Regions from separate parts of the Homo sapiens genome. Here region 1 is linked to region 2. A link means that fine-mapping ties the variant in region 2 to the expression of a gene that starts in the linked region. Tissue or cell type: whole blood. Region 2 holds a variant in brackets; the other region holds the start of a gene. All regions are shown on one strand. Distances are from middle to middle.

Region 1 (8,123 bases), 160 kb before region 2:
AAAATTTTTTTGCCAATGGTGCCAAGTAATGTGAATGCTAATACTGCTTAAGAAAATTAAGTTACTTTTGCAAAACAGATAATCATAAGATGAATCAGTATGTAGCTTAACACCATCCACTCACTCCAACAAAGAACACTTAGAATGATAAAAAAAAAAAAAAAAAACCTGACAAAAGAAATAGTATGAAAAGTAGAAAAATGTCACGTTTCCATATCTCCTGCTGGAAATCAGAAAATATAATAAAATTGCACAAAAAAAAAAATGAAAAAGATGCAGACTGGTCTTTTAGAGACGGCATGGTATATTACTATTTCCACATAATGAGGAGCCAAAGAAATCTGATGTTTTTAACAATTAAACTGCTAATGTTAAATTGAGAGAATAAAGTTCGTATTTGCTGATGCCAGTTTAAAATTCCCAGGTTACGTCTGAGGATCAGTTGGTGTAAAGCTGAGATGTTTTTTCTTGGTTCTGGCTGCCAACTGTGAGTTAAAACTCAAGGCTTGTTGTGAAGCCTAAAAATATTCACAAATAAGCTTTTAAACTGGTGTCTTTGGAAGGAAGGTAGATACAAAAAGATTGTGGTAAAAACTGGGGTCAGTGCTCTTGGTGCCTTTTCTATAATTGTACTTGTTTTTTAATTACTTCCTTTCACTGCCAACCTCGAATTACTGTACAGTATATGTCTTTCTGCTTGTGATCAGCTTTGACAACAGTGACAGCCCCACAACTAGTAGCCACCTGTACATTTGTAAACTGACCTGACTCCATTTTGTTTTTAAATGTGTGGGTTATGTTGCAGCTGTTGCAGTCCCCCAGATACCTATTATTTTACACAATTTGACCTATAGGAGGACACTGAGTAATTTACAAACACAACTGCATTCATAAATGGGAATAGAACGTGAAAGCCAGCTCTTTCAGAATATCCTCTATTAATACTGAATTTAGATATCTTTATTCCATTTATTATGGTACAAATAACTGATGTTTTAACCAGAGTAATGACCTCAGTGGATTTGCTTTAACCCTCACATTTTTTTTTTAATGTTTCACATGTTACATTATTAGCTGAATACGTTAGAAAATGACAGATGGTAGAGACTTCCATAGAATTAAGAGGGTTCTCATGGAGGGGATAGGAAGTAGGTTTAAAGCCTACCAGTGTAACCTACCAGTACAACTGTGAATCCTAGGCGAGGCAAAAATGCACTTCCACTGAAACGAAGCATTTCTGACCGCTTTTTCTTGGTTATGAATCTTAATTTCGAATATAAGATGATAGGTAAGCGCAGCTTTCTTGGATAATCTGAATTCCCAAGTGCCAGGAGTAGGATTTCATTATAAAATTAATAGCTAATCTTATTCTATCTCCTGAAGATTTAATTGCTATTGTTACCCATTCGAAATCAGCTGTACTGTGTGAACGAAATAAAGACAATAATACGAACCCCTCTCTGGCTGCACGGTCGCTTATGGCAGTTCCACACAGTAGTTGGCGCCCAATGGGGGGTCCCTGAGACTTGCATGTAAAACTAGTCTAGATGTCTTCTTTTTTTGTAAGTTTTATTTTTGTAATTGTGCATGTAAAGCATCATTGAATCAATGGATCTGTTGAAGAACTCAGCTGCTGGAAACCATGCAAAATGTTTTGAATTGCCCTTAAAATATGGAAAATGTTTTCTGAATGCTTTATATTCTTTCTGCTGTAAATTAAAAATGAAGAAAATTTCCCCATACTACGTGTGTGTTTTGCTTTAATATGACCGGGTAGTGAAATCTAAGGTGATGGGCACATGTTTCAAAACATATGTAATAATGTCAAGGATTTCCTTCTGATCCAGATGTAATGTTTTGACATTGAATGTTACATTGTTTCAGCTAGGTCCATGAAAGAAAAAATGTCTTCCAGCCACCATTCAGAGAGCTTTTCCCCTATCTTTCCAGGCACCTCTCAACATGTCAATCATTTGTGTAAGGCAGTGCAATTATTTGAAAGATAAAGACATTAATTTAATTCACCTTTTCAGTTACAATCCTCTAAAGTCTTCTAAAAGGCATTTTCCAGCAGATTACGAACGTCGTCCTTTCTGAGTATTGTGTCATCGCCGCTCCCTTCCCGTTCACTGCAGAGCCTCTCCTTATCTCCCTAGTGCTCCCTCTTCCATCTAATCCATCTGGCCACTACTGCCAGAGAAATTTTGCATCATGGATCTCCCACGTCCGTAAGTCAATGGTTTCCAGGGCCCACTACAATTAAATGACATTTTTCTTGTTTGTTTATCCTCTTTATTCAGTCTTCTTTTCACTTGTACCCAACCTGCACCCTCTAGGTGGTCTGTGCACACTGCGTCCATTTTCACTGCTGTCTTTGTTCATGGTGTTTGCCCAACCCTTACTTGGAAAGTTCTTTTCCACTAGTACCCAGCTCAAATCCCACCGCCTTTGTGACACTCGTTTATTCGATATATACTAACGTTTCCCTTTTCAAAGTATTCTATTTAGAGTTGGAAAAAACAGCATAGTATTTAAGTACTGTATTTTTCACTTCTCATCTAAGAGACCCACCAATGACCTATTAGTGTTTTATTTTTTGGTGTAGGTAACTATGTTGGTAGGAATATTTCAGTAACAAATATATACAAGGTAACTCACTGCGTTCAGATTTGTGCTTCCCTCCCTTCGACCAAAACCTGAGGACCTATTCTGTGCTAGGGCCTGAAAATACAGAAATAAAGGAACTACAGCCTTGATGCCAAGGCTCTCGTAAGCAGATTATAATATGATCTGCAGTGACAAATATTTGTGTCACCGATGAAAACATGAGCGGGAACCTCACCCAACACCATGTGACAAATACCCGAAATGGACTTCCTATTTCAACTACTTTAGAGAAACATGGTGCCCTCAGGATCACTAGGTTACTCTGGAACACTCAGCAGAAGCCAGTCATCTGTCTCTAATACTGTTAGAAATGGTCCCGAGCCCAGAATAACATGAATTGCCCCCACCCTCACTTATCCACGCAGTCCCTCGCCAGTGGCTAATGCACCACGTTTACAGACCACGTCCCCAAGCGCCAGCGCGGACGGCGGTGCGGACAGGGAGCTGTATTGACCTGCGTTCTGCGTTTCAGAGCCCGGACCGCCCTGGGACCCCTGTGGCCCTCAAGTTCCCAAGTGACCTCGTCCGGGGAGGGGACGTCTCGCTCTGACCCCGCCCTGGACGCACCCACCCACGACGCCCCCGCCCACTTCCGGCGCGCCCCCTCTTCGCCCCGCCCACTCCCCCGGCTCCGCCTAGTGACGTCTTTGCCCCGCGCCGCGCCGTCCCACCCATCTCCCTGGCCTCCGGTCCCAACTTCGCTTCTCTGCTGACCCTCTCTCGTCGCCGCTGCCGCCGCCGCAGCTGCCAAAATGTGAGTGACGCTACGCGACGCGGGCGGCTTCGGGCCCCGCAGGCGGCAGCTCGCGCTGGGACCGCCATACTGCCCAGTTGCCGCCGGCCGCCACTCGGACGCAGGCCGGGGCTGCGCGGGGATCCCGAGGCCTGGGGGTGGGCGGTGGCCCTTGGGTCGCGGGCTGCAGACGGGCCGGGCGGGTCCCGCGGCCATCGGGCGGACGCGGAAGGGGCAAGGGCGGGGCGGCGAGACGCTTCCCGGAGGAAGTGAGCTGCCCGCCCGCAGCCCGCTCCTCGCCCCTTCCCTTTCTAGTCCCCGACGTCCCTGAGAGGAATGGGGACGACAGCCCTGGTTCGGGAGCGCCCGCTCTCGGCCCGGTGCTGCGCTGGGCCCCAGAAGTTGCGAAAGAAAGGACCTCGGCCCTGTCCTGAGCCCCTGTGGGCCGAAGAGCTCCTTGCCTAGCTAGGGGCATCTGCACTGGAAAGATCACTTAACCGTGGGCCTTCGCTCTCTTAAGCGAAAGCACGTTGCAAACCCCTGCTTCCAGTGGTAAGACTCAGAGAATGCTAATGGTTAAGAATCACAAGGACTCCCTCTTCCACCTCCATTCTGCTCATTGCTCACCGTCGGAGGAAGCCCCGGGTTTCTTCCAGGAGCTGGGGACCCCCCTCGAATGTTCCTGCTGAGGCTGCTGTGCCAATAGATCACAGTGGTTAAGATCTAGAGCCAAGGTACACAGGACCTGATCTAAAAACAAGCTGTCCTGCAGCCAGCTGTGTTGACTCTCTAAACCTCACTTTACTCATTTGTAAAATAGGAGTAATATTCCCCTCAGAGAGTTATGAGGGTTAAAGGAGGAAAAGCATGGAAAGAGTCTAGCGCCACGGCATGGTCCTTACTTATCTACCAGATACTAAACTCCGTGAGGACGGTGATGAGATCTGTTGTAGCCCTGGTCATTGACACATGACAGATGTAAAGTGACTGTTCAAACAGCCCATCAGACTGTTGTATACCAAGGCACATGCTAGGTGCTATCTAGGATACAGAGAAGAGAGTAAGAAGACCCAGGAACCTGTGATCTATTCGAGGAGGCGGGACTTTATACCTGAAAAACCAAAGTGATACTTTCCAAGTAATGGAGCCAATAATGACTTCAGAGTCAGAGTGGTTAAGAAAGATCTGCATGGGGAGAAATAAAGCCTTTGATGAAGATTTTAAAAGATGAGTACCTTCCTGGGCCGGGCGCGGTGGCTCATGCCTGTAATCCCAGCACTTTGGGAGGCCGAGGTGGACGGATCACTTGAGGTCAGGAGTTCGAGACCAGCTTGACCAACATGGTGAAACCCCGTCTCTACTAAAAAATACAAAATTAGCCGGGCGTGGTGGCACATGCCTGTAATCCCAGCTGCTTGGGAGACTGAGGCAAGAGAATTGCTTGGACCCAGGAAGCGGAGGTTACAGTGAGCCGAGATCGCGCCATTGCACTCCAGCCCGGGCAACAGGAGCGAAACTCCGTCTCTCAAAAGAGGGGGAAAAAGAAAGAGTACCTTCCTAAAAGAGGAGGCATTTCTTCAACACACCTTTCCACTCACACCACCCACTCCCTGCATCCCAGTGTTCCTGACTCTGTTTCTGTAAATTAATCTATTTTTCCATATTGGAAAAAGGGCATTCTGTAACTGTTTGTAACTATGAAAACAGTTCCTTCCACAATGAAAAGATCAGGAAAGTACTGAGTACATTCAAGCAGATGTGTGCCTTAGAACAAGTTTCAAAAAAGGACAGTAGAGCTTACCTATCGTGGGATCAGATACTTCAGGGATACAAAGTAGGTCCTATTAAAGCTTAACATTTGTCCCTTTAGTAGGTGGGACAGTCTTGGAAATTATAGAGAAATTAGAAGAAATGCAATTAAAACTTTCGTTCATTGCTTCAGGAAGAATTTCTTTTTCTGTTTTAGTTCTAATGTAAGAGATTGTTAACAGTGAGAGTCCCGGAGTAACATCTTTATACTTAAGAAAATGTATTTGGAATCGTAATGTACTCATGCTCATGCCTTTACATGTTCCAGGTCTACAGGTCCAACTGCTGCCACTGGCAGTAATCGAAGACTTCAGCAGACACAAAATCAAGTAGATGAGGTATTGCTCTGAAATGTTGGAAATATGAATTTTAAACAAATATGAGTACTCTGGAAATCTGTTTAGAAAAAGTATCATCAAAGTGTGAATGTAAAGCAAATTCTGACTGTATCATAATTGTAACGAAACTTTGCTCCCTGCTGTGCTGGAAGATCTAATCTAAGCAAAAGTCAGACTTTCTAGGTTTCACGCTTGTTTTCCTGTGATAGAAACCTGCTCATAACATTTAGCTCAGGAGAAATAAAAAATCATATGCCTAAAACATGAACATCACTCCCTGAGTGCATTCCCCAAGAAGCACTTTATAAAATCGGATAATACAATGTTAAGGATTAGGTCTTTAGATTGCTCAAGCCAAGACCAGTTCTTCTGATCAGATTTTTTTATCAAAATGCTTTGTCTTCTTACTAATTGTCCAGCCTGAGCAAGCCTCTCTGTAGAATTCATCTCTAATGGTTGTCCATTGACACACACAAAGTAGATACTGTCAAACTCCATTAGCTCAGCAAATCTCTGTTTGTAGAATTCTTGAGCTAGAGGACCTCCATCTTTTGTTCTGCGCCGTATGTGGAGAACCACAGCAGAAGATTGAGAAATTCAGACTAGTGTTTCCACATTCCTAAAAGCCGTCACTGTCCGACAAATATATTTCGGTCTTTCTGCATTTAGCTGCCCTGAAAAAACAGTTAAAGTTATGTCAGATACTGTTGTTAAATAATATAGTAATGTTTTGATCTGATGGTTTTGTTCATGAACTTATACAATTTTAGATTTTCACAGTAAGAAACCCATTGTAATTCTGTCCTGCCTGGAAATTCTGTTTACTTACAAAATCAAATTGGATTTTTTTTTTTAGCCAAAGGAATTTTAAGGAGAGTTGTTTTTTTATTGAGGCAAAATTACCATAACATACAACTAAACATTTTAAACTGTATATAATTGAGTGTTATTTAGTATATTGATAATATTTTGCAACCATTACCTCTTTCCATTTTCAGAACTTTTTCATCACCCCAGAACACCTCATGCCCATTTAGTAATCATTCACTATTTCCCCTTCCTCCCATTCTCTGGTTACCTCTAATCAGCTCTCTCTTTCTGTGGATTTGCCTGTTCTGGGTATGTCATATAAAAGGAATCATACAATGTGTGGCCTTTTGCATCTGCCTTCTTTCACTTAGCACAAAGTTTTTTGCATTCATTCAAGTTGTAACGTGTTGTACCGTGTTCCTTTTTACGGTTGAGTAATATTCCATTGTATGTGTATACACAATTTGTTGAGCCATCCATTTGTTAATGAGTCTTCGAGTTGTTTCCACCTTTCAGCAATTATGAATAATGCTGTTATAAATATTCACAGGAAAGATTTTGTTTAGACATAGGCTTTCATTTCTCTTGAATGTATACCTAGGAGTAGCATTGCTAGGTCATAGTAGCTGTATGTTTAATTTTACGAGGAACTGCCAAATTGTTTTCCACAATAGCTGCACCATTTTATTTTCCCACCAGCAATGTCCAAGAGTTCCTGTTTCTCCACATCCTTGCCAACACTTGTTTTCCATTTTGATTATAACCATCCTACTGAGCTCTTTGGGTTTTCATTTGCGTTTCTCTAATGATTAGTGATGTTAAGCATCTTTTCATGTGCTTATTGGCCATTTGTATGTCTTTGAAGAAATGTCTGTTCAGGCTTTGCCCATTTTTTAATTGGGTTGTTTGAGTTGTGAGAGTTTTTTATGTATTCTGGATATTAAATCTTTCTTTATCAGACATGTGATTTGCAAATACTTTCTCCCATTCTGTGGCTTGTCTTTTACATTTTTTTTATTTTTTTTATTTTTATTTATTTTTTTTGAGACGGAGTTTTGCTCTGTTGCCGAGGCTGGAGTGCAGTGGTGCAATCTCAGCTCACTGCAGCCTCCAAGCCCCAGGTTCAAGTGATTCTCCTGCCTCAGCCCCCAGAGTAGCTGGGATTACAGGCGCCCGCCACCTTGCCCGGCTAATTTTTTGTATTTTTAGTAGAGACAGTGGTTCACCATTTTGGTCAGGCTGGTCTCAAACTCCTGATCTCAGGTGATCCACCTGCCTGGGCCTCCCAAAGTGCTGGGAATATAGGCATGAGCCACCGCACCTGGCCTGATAATGTTCTTTGATGCACAAAAGTTTTTAATTTTTATGAAGTCCAATGTATCTGTTTTTCCTTTTGTTGTTCTTGATTTTGGTATATAAGAATCCACAGTCAAATCCAAAGTAATGAAGATTTACCCTTATGTTTTCTTCTAAGAGTTTTATGGCTTTAGCTCTTACACTTAGATTATTGATCCATTTTGAGTTACTTTTTGTATATAGGGTGAGGTGGGGATTCAACTTCATTCTTTTGCATGTTGGCTCTTCAATTGGCCCAGCACTGTTTATTGAAAAGACTGTTGGATGGCCTTCGCACTCTTGTCAAAAATCAATTGGCCATAGATGCTTAGGTTGACTTCTAGACTCTCAGTTCTATTCCATCAGTCTATATGTTTGTCCTTATGCCAGTATCACACTGTTTTGATTACTGTAGCTTTGTAGTAAGTTTT
Region 2 (8,000 bases):
TGTTCGTGTCTTAGTTTTTCACAAAAAAAGTTTAAAAAGTAAAAAGCAATTTAAAAACTTTTAAATAGATAAAAGCTTATAGAATAAGGAAATAAAGAGAAAATATTTTTGTACAGCTGTACAATGTGCTTGTGTTTTAAGCTAAGAGTTATTACAAAAGAGTCAAAAAGTTAAAAAAAATTTTTTTTAAGTTTATAGGCTGGGTGCGGTGGCTCATGCCTGTAATCCCAGCACTTTGGGAGGCCGAGGTGGGCAGATTACCGGAGCTCAGGAGTTCGAGACCAGCCTAGCCAACATGGTGAAACCCCATCTCTAATACAAAAATTAGCCAGGCGTGGTGGCAGCTGCCTGTAGTCCCAGCTACTTGGGGGGCTGAGGCAGGAGAATCACTTGAACCTGGGAGGTGCAGGCTGCAGTGAGCCAAGATCTCGCCACTGCATTCCAGCCTGGGCAGCAAGACCCTGCCTCAAAAAAAAAAAAATTAAAGTTTATGAAGTAAAAAGTCACAGTAAGCTAAGGTTAATTTATTATTGAAGAAAGAGAACATTTTAAATAAATTTAGGTTAGCTTAAGTGTACAGTGTTTATAAGACTACAGTGATATACAGCAGAGGTCCCCAACCTTTTTGGCAAGAGGGACCAGTTTTGTGGAAGACAATTTTTCCACGGACTGGGTGGGTGGGGGGATGGTTTCAGGATGATTCAAGCACATTACATTTATTGTGCACTTTATTTCTATTATTATTACTTTGTAATATATAATGAAATAATTATACAACTCCCTGTAATGTAGAATCAGTGGGAGCCCTGAGCTTGTTTTCCTACAACTAGACAGTCCCATCTGGGGGTGATGGGGAACAGTGACAGATCATCAGGTACTGGATTCTCATAAGGAGCGTGCAACCTCGATCCCTCGTATGCGCAGTTCACAATAGGATTCATGCTCCTATGAGAATCTAATGCCGCTGCTGATCTGATGGGAGATGGAGATAAGGCGGTAATGCAAGTCATGGGGAGGGGCTATAAATACAGAGGAAGCTTCACGTGCTTGCCCACCACTCTCCTCCTGCTGGGTGGCCTGGTTTCTAATGGCGTCTCACTCTGTTGCCCAGCCAGGAGTGCAGTGATGCGATCTCGGCTCACTGCAACCTCTGCCTGTCAGGTTCAAGGGATTCTCCCACCTCAGCCTCCCAAGTGGCTGGAATTACAGGCATGCGCCACCACACCCGGCTAATTTTTGTATTTTTAGTAGAAACAGGGTTTCACCATGTTGGCCAGGCTAGTCTCGAACTCCTGACCTCAGGTGATCTGCCCACCTTGGTCTCCCAAAGTGTTGGGATTACAGACATGAGCCACTGCGCCTGGCAAAGATCATATTATTTTCACGGTACCTCTTCTATGTTTAGATATGTTTAGCTACACAAATACCATTATGTTACAGTTGCCTATGGTATTCGGTACAGTCACATGCCTGACAGGTTTGTAGTATAGGAGGGATAGGCTATACCATCCAGCCTAGGTGTATAGTAGGCTGTACCATCTAGGTTTGCATAAGTGCCCTCTATGATGTTCACACAACAACGAAATCACTTAACAACACATTTCTCAGAACTACCCCTGTCATTAAGTGATATGTGACTGTACTTCACATAGTAAAGATGTCAATTTGCCCGAAACTGATATGCAGATTTAACACAATTGTTATCAGAATCCCAGCCGGCTTTTTGTAGATATAGATATTATCCTAAAATGTATGTGGAAATGCAAAGGAACTAGAATAGATAAAACAATTTTGAAATGAAATAATAAAGTGGGAGAGACTACCACCCTCTACCCAATTTCAGTATTTATGTATAACTACAGTAATCAAGGCTGTGTGGTATTGGCAGAAGAAGAAACACATGGATCAATGGAACAGAAGAGGGAAACCAGATAGCCCCACGTAATTGCAGCCAACTGACTTTGACAAAGGTACAATGAAGGATGACTAATGTTTTCCACTAGTGGTGCTAGAGCAATTGGACGTCCATAGTCCAACAACAAAAACAACAACAAAAAACTTGGCTAAAACCTCTCACACCTTATACGAAAAATTTAAAACGAATCAAGCATGGGCACAGTGGCTCACACCTGTAATCCCAGCACTTTGGGAGGCCAAGGCAGGAGGATTGTTTAAGGCCAGGAGTTCAAGACCAGCCTGAGCAACATGGTGAGACTCTGTCTCAAAATAAAAAAAAAAATTACCCAGGCATGCAGAGAGCCAAAGCCCGTGAGACGTGACCAACTCAACATTCCACTGGAGGCTATATGATCAAACAGCAAAGTGTTCATCACGAATGCAAGATGTGAGCAAACTCACACTGCCCTGCCACCAAAAAGTTTGCTGAGGGACGCTACTCCCTGGCTCCTTGAAGTTATCTATTGAGAAATCTAGCACCTATTGTTCAAAGGATGCAGTCTCACAAGCCTGCTGTGAACCAAACACCAAACGGCTAACTGACAATTACCCGACAATCATCCCCGCTTTCTCACTATCTCTTTTGCCTAATAAATACGGAGGGCTGTGTAAAGCTCAGGGCCCTTGTCCACTAGAGGCAAGGTGCCCCCTGACCCCTTCTTCCAAATATACTCTTTTGTCTCGTCTTTTATTCCCGCTTTTGCCCCCCTTTGTTCAGTCCAATAGGTCCACAGCAAGTGCTGGCACACTCCTGTAGTCCCAGCTACTTGGGAGGCCAAGGAGGGAGGATCACTTGAGCCCAGGAGGTGGAGGCTGCAGTAAGCCATGATCACACCACTGCACTCCAGCCTGGGTGACAAAGCAGAGACCCTGTCTCAGAAAAAAAAAATCAAGATTTAAATATGAAATAGAAAACTGTAAAAGTTATAAGAGATAGAGGAAAAAAAAAAACCCTAAATCTTTGAGACCCAGGACTCAGTGAAGAATTCTTAGACATGACTCCATAAATGAAAAAATCCATAAACTGGACTTCAGCAAAATTAAATAGCTTTTCTCTGTGGAAGAGCCTGAGAAGAGGATGAAAAGGCAAGCTACTGACTGGGAGAAAATATTTATAAACCATATATATGCCAAAGGACTCCTATCTGGGAAATACGAAGAACTCTTGAATCTCAACAGTAAAACAAACAAATAATCCAACTAGAAAATAGGTGAAAGACCTGAACAACACTTCACTGAAGAAGATATAAAGATGGAAAATAAGCACATGAAAAGATGTCCACCCATAAGGGAAGTGCAAATTAAAGCCCCAATGAGATGTCACTACATACCTATTAGAACAGCTGAAATAAAAATTGTGGCAATGCAAAATGCAAGCAAGGATGCAGAGAAACTCCGATGAGAATGTAAAATGATACACTTCCTCTGGAAAATAGTTCGACAACTTCTTAAAAACTAAACAAGCACCAAACATATAGCCCAGCAATTGCACTCCTGAGCATTTATCATAGAGATACAAAAATACATGTCCACACAAAACCTGTACATAATTATTCCTCGCAGCTTTATATGTAATAGTCAAAACAGGAAGCAAACAAAATATCTTTTAATGGGTGCATGGTAAAACAAACTGTGGCACAAGCATATCGTGGAATACTATTCAGCAAGGAAAAAGAATTAACCATTGAAACACACAGCAACTTGGATGGATATCAAGGGCATTGTGCTGAGTGAAAAAGCAAAATCTTAAAAAAAGTTCACGTTTGTGAAAGTTGTCAGAATCAAAATGGAGTAACTTGTGTCAAAACCCTGACAAATGGGCCGGGCATGGTGGCTCATGCCTGTAATCCCAGCACTTTGGGAGACTGAGGCAGGCAGATCACATGAGGCCAGGAGTTCAAGACCAGCCTGGCCAACGTGGCAAAACCCCGTCTCTACTATAGCCGGGCATGGTGGCAGCTGCCTGTAATCCCAGCTACTCAGGAGGCTGAGGCACGAAAATCGCTGGAACCCAGGAGGCGGAGGTTGCAGCGAGTGGAGATCACGCCACTGCACTCCAGCCTGAATGACACAGGGAGATCCTGTCTCAAAAACAAACAACAACAATAACAACAAAAAACCAAAAAACAAACAAACAAACAAAAACCCTGACAAATGGAGCCAGGGAAGGCCGTGAAGGGGGTTTCTTATGCATGCATGCCTGATAAAAACAACTATCACAAAAGATGGCAGAAACCACAACCTTGCACCAAGGCTACTGTATCTTAACAAAAAAATACTTCTGCCGGTATTGATCTTTGTAGCAAAGGATAATTGTTTCAAAATAACTTACATAACCCTCCTCAGTTTTTCTTTTTTTTCTTTTTCCTTTTTTTTTTTTTTTTTTTTTGAGACAGAGTCTTGCTCTGTCGCCCAGGCTGGAGTGAAGTGCAGGATGCGATATCAGCTCACTGCAACCTCCGCCTCCCAGGTTCAAGTAATTCTTGTGCCTCAGCCTCCCAAGTATCTGGGATTACAGGCACGTGCCACCATGCAGGGCTAACTTTTTGTATTTTTAGTAGAGATGGGGTTTCACCATGTTGGCCAGGCTGGTCTCGAACTCCTGACCTCAGGTGATCCATCCGCCTCAGCCTCCCAAAGCGCTGGGATTATAGGCATGAGCCACTGTGCCCCGCCCCTCATTTTTTCTTTTAAAAACTCGCATCACCTTTACAT[C/T]CCTGAATACACCCACCGTATTCCCACTGCAATGCTACTCCTGAAAAAATATAATCTTTTAGAGAGGCTCTCTCTATCTATGATTTAGCTTGACACATACCATATGATTCTATTTATACCATATTCCTTAAATAACAAAAGTATAGAGATGAAAGACAGATAAGTGGTTGCCAGGGGATGGTGGGGAGAGGTAGAGGACCTAACTAGAAAGGAATAGTGGAAGGAGATCTCTGTGGTGATGGATAGTTCTGATTTTATTGTGCTGGTTGTTATACAACTCCACATGTGTGATAAAGGGACAAACAACTACACACGCACACTGTGCCAATGTCAATTTCCTGCTTTGCCATTGTACTGGAGAATGGAACCCAGAAACCGCATGAGAGATGTTCCTGTCTTGGCAAATTCCTGTGAATCTATAATTACGTCAAAATTGAAAGTTCTTTTGAACGACCTAAAACCTTTTTTTTTTTTTTTTTTTGAGACGGAGTTTCGCTTTTGTTGCCCAGGCTGGAGTGCAATGGCACGATCTCAGTTCACTGCAACCTCCACCTCCCGGGTTCAAGCGATTCTCCTGTCTCAGCCTCCTGAGTAGCTGGGATTACAGGCATGCACCACCACGCCTGGCTAATTTTTTGTATTTTTAGTAGAGACGGGGTTTCACCATGGCCAGGCTGGTGTTGAACTCCTAACCTCAGGTGATCTGCCCGCCTCAGCCCCCCAGAATGCTAGGATTACAGGCGTGAGCCACAGCGCCCAGCCAGAAGGAAGGCTTCCCTGACCAGGAATCGAACCCGGGTCGTGATGGCGAGCGCGGAATCCTAACCACTAGACTACCAGGGAGTGTCCTAAAAACTTTTAAAAAATGGATTACAGTTCCATTGAAACTCACTAATTACTCATAAATACTTTTGAAAAGCATTTTATAACGAACTTTGTTGCAGTCTGGGGTGTGGATGGAACTTTGTTGCAGAGATACTCCTTTAAATCAGGATTAAGTCCAGCACTTTGGGAAACCGAGGTGGGAGGATCGCTTGAGCCCAGGAGTTTAAGACTGGCCTGGACAACACCGTGAATCCCAGTCTCTACAAAAACACTAAAAATCAATTAAAAATTAGCTGAGTGTGGTGGTATGCACCTATAGTCCCAGCTATTTAGTAGGCTGAGGCAGGAGGATTGCTCGAGCTCTGGAGTTCGAGGCTACAGTGAGCTGTGATCGCACCATTGCACTTCAGCCTGGGTGACACAGTGAAACTCTGTCTCAAAAAAACAAAAGACAAAACTGAAATCAGGTTTAAGTGAGAACGCAGAGGTTTAAACTGGAGGTGTAGACCTCAAAAAAAGAATGAAAGAGCAAACCACAGAATAGGAAAAGATATTTGCAGCTCATGAACAGCAGACTAAAAACTTCCTATACGTTAGTAAGAAAAGGACAGACAATCCTATGAGAAAATACTCAAAAGACTTGATCAGGCCCTTCACTAAAGAGGAAATCCAAATAGCCAAAATAACATGAAAAGGCGTCTAACCTCACTAGCAACCAGGAAGTGTAAGTTAAAACCACAATGAGATACAACTATCCACCCACCATATCGATAAAAATAATCTGATGATACCAAGAGTTATCAGGGGATGTGGAGTAACAGGAAACTCATTACCGCCAGGGGAGTGTAAATGGGGTCCAATCATTTAGGAAAACAGTTTGGCATATTCACGACCAAGATACACATGTTCCTTGTAGCTCAGCAACGTTATTTCTAGGTTAAAAAACAAAACCAAGCCAGAAACACGTGTTTACGTGTGCTGAGATACACGGACAAAAATATTCAAACGTCATTACATGTAATAACCCCAAGCTGGAAATGATCCCGCTGTCCATCAGTACTAGAATAGGTGAACAATGATGTCATCATTCAACAAGAGTGTGCAACAGTGGAAATCAACTAAAGATGAACTCAACATGGATGAATCTTCATGATACAACGTTGAAAGAAGAAGCAAGATACAGAAAACAGTGTGATTCTATTTGTATGAAGTTCACAAGCAGCCCAATAAAACTGTGTTATTAGGTAGCAAAACTACAGCAAAAGGAAGTTAATACCATACAAGTCTAGATGTGGTTAGCAGTAGTGGGCAAAGAGGGCTGTGATCTAGAAAGGGCATGCCAAGGGCTTCGGGAATGAGTTATGTTCCACTTCTTTACCCTGGTAGAGTTATTTGAATGTTTGTTTACAACAATTTGTTAAACTTTACATTTATGCATTTTTCTGTATAGGTCACAATGTATAAAAGTTCTATATTGCTTTAAAAAGAGCCTTTAAATACATTAGCATAATTTATTAGATAAGACTTTACTGGCTGAGCGCAGTGGCTCACGCCTGTAATCCCAACACTTTGGGAGGCTGAGGCGGGCGGATCACCTGAGGTTGGGAGTTCAAGACCAGCCTGGCCAACATGGAGAAACCCCGTCTCTACTAAAAATGCAAAATTAGCTGGGTGTGGTGGCGCATGCCTGTAATGCCTCGGGAGCCTGAGGCAGGAGAATCGCTTGAACCCGGAAGGAGGAGGTTGCGGTAAGCCGGGATCACGCCATTGCACTCCAGCCTGGGCAACAAGAGTGAAACTCTGTCTCAAAAAAGAAAAAAAAAGACTTTACTAATGCTGTTCCTGCATATATATTTTTAACAATCTCCAAATAGGCACATTCTGGTCTTACATGGTGCTTTGGGTTAAAATTTTGCTCTCAAAAAGCTCCTTTTATTATATCCCTCTTATTAAGTCTTATTAAGCCTGTTATGTCTCATCCTAATGTCCATGAAGACAAAAAACAGATTGCCTTCCATCTATATACTTTTTCAAATAAATATCAATGGCTTTTGTCTAGTGGATGCTGACTCAGTGCCAGGCACTTGCTGAGTACCTTACAGAAATAATTGTTGAACAAGTGAATGAATGAAATTCATTATTGAAATTTTTCATGTAATCCATACTGGTGCTGTAATAATTCATTTGTTAAACCCCCTTCAAGCTCCCTCTTTGTTCTCCTTGCCTTCCTCAAATATGGGTCTAAACTCATTTTAAGCCAGTTTATCAACCAGAGGGACATAGAGGGAACATGGTTTTCTGATTCTTCTTTGCCAGTGTCCTCCACACGCACACACACACATACACACACGCACGCACGCGCACACACACACGCACACACACACAGACACGCACACACACACATACACACACACACACACATACACATACATGCAATAATCCAAGGCTGCAGCATATTTAAATCTGTCATTTTTCTAGAACCGAGGTGTGCTCTTCTATATGCA

What was found. PIP is the estimated chance that this variant, and not a neighbour inherited with it, causes the effect.
Region 1: it holds the start of VAMP3, and the variant in region 2 is fine-mapped to the expression of VAMP3 in whole blood (TOPMed, PIP above 0.99).

Annotation. Positions count from the first base shown.
Region 1 is chr1:7,767,965-7,776,087 of GRCh38, forward strand. It overlaps VAMP3 (vesicle associated membrane protein 3), which reads left to right and starts at 3,332. Exons shown (of 5, transcript NM_004781.4): 1 at 3,332-3,421; 2 at 5,478-5,547. The coding sequence starts at 3,420. It overlaps CAMTA1 (calmodulin binding transcription activator 1), which reads left to right. Exons shown (of 23, transcript NM_015215.4): 23 at 1-1,742. RefSeq lists enhancers at 2,536-3,232, 2,976-3,025 and silencers at 3,259-3,501, 3,466-3,695.
Region 2 is chr1:7,924,835-7,932,834 of GRCh38, forward strand. The region is part of intron 7 of TNFRSF9 (TNF receptor superfamily member 9); the gene reads right to left. It also overlaps the pseudogene TRUND-NNN4-1. Among named protein-coding and RNA genes, the nearest start is that of TNFRSF9, 12 kb to the right of the region's middle. The variant C/T (reference allele first, on the strand shown) is at 4,672.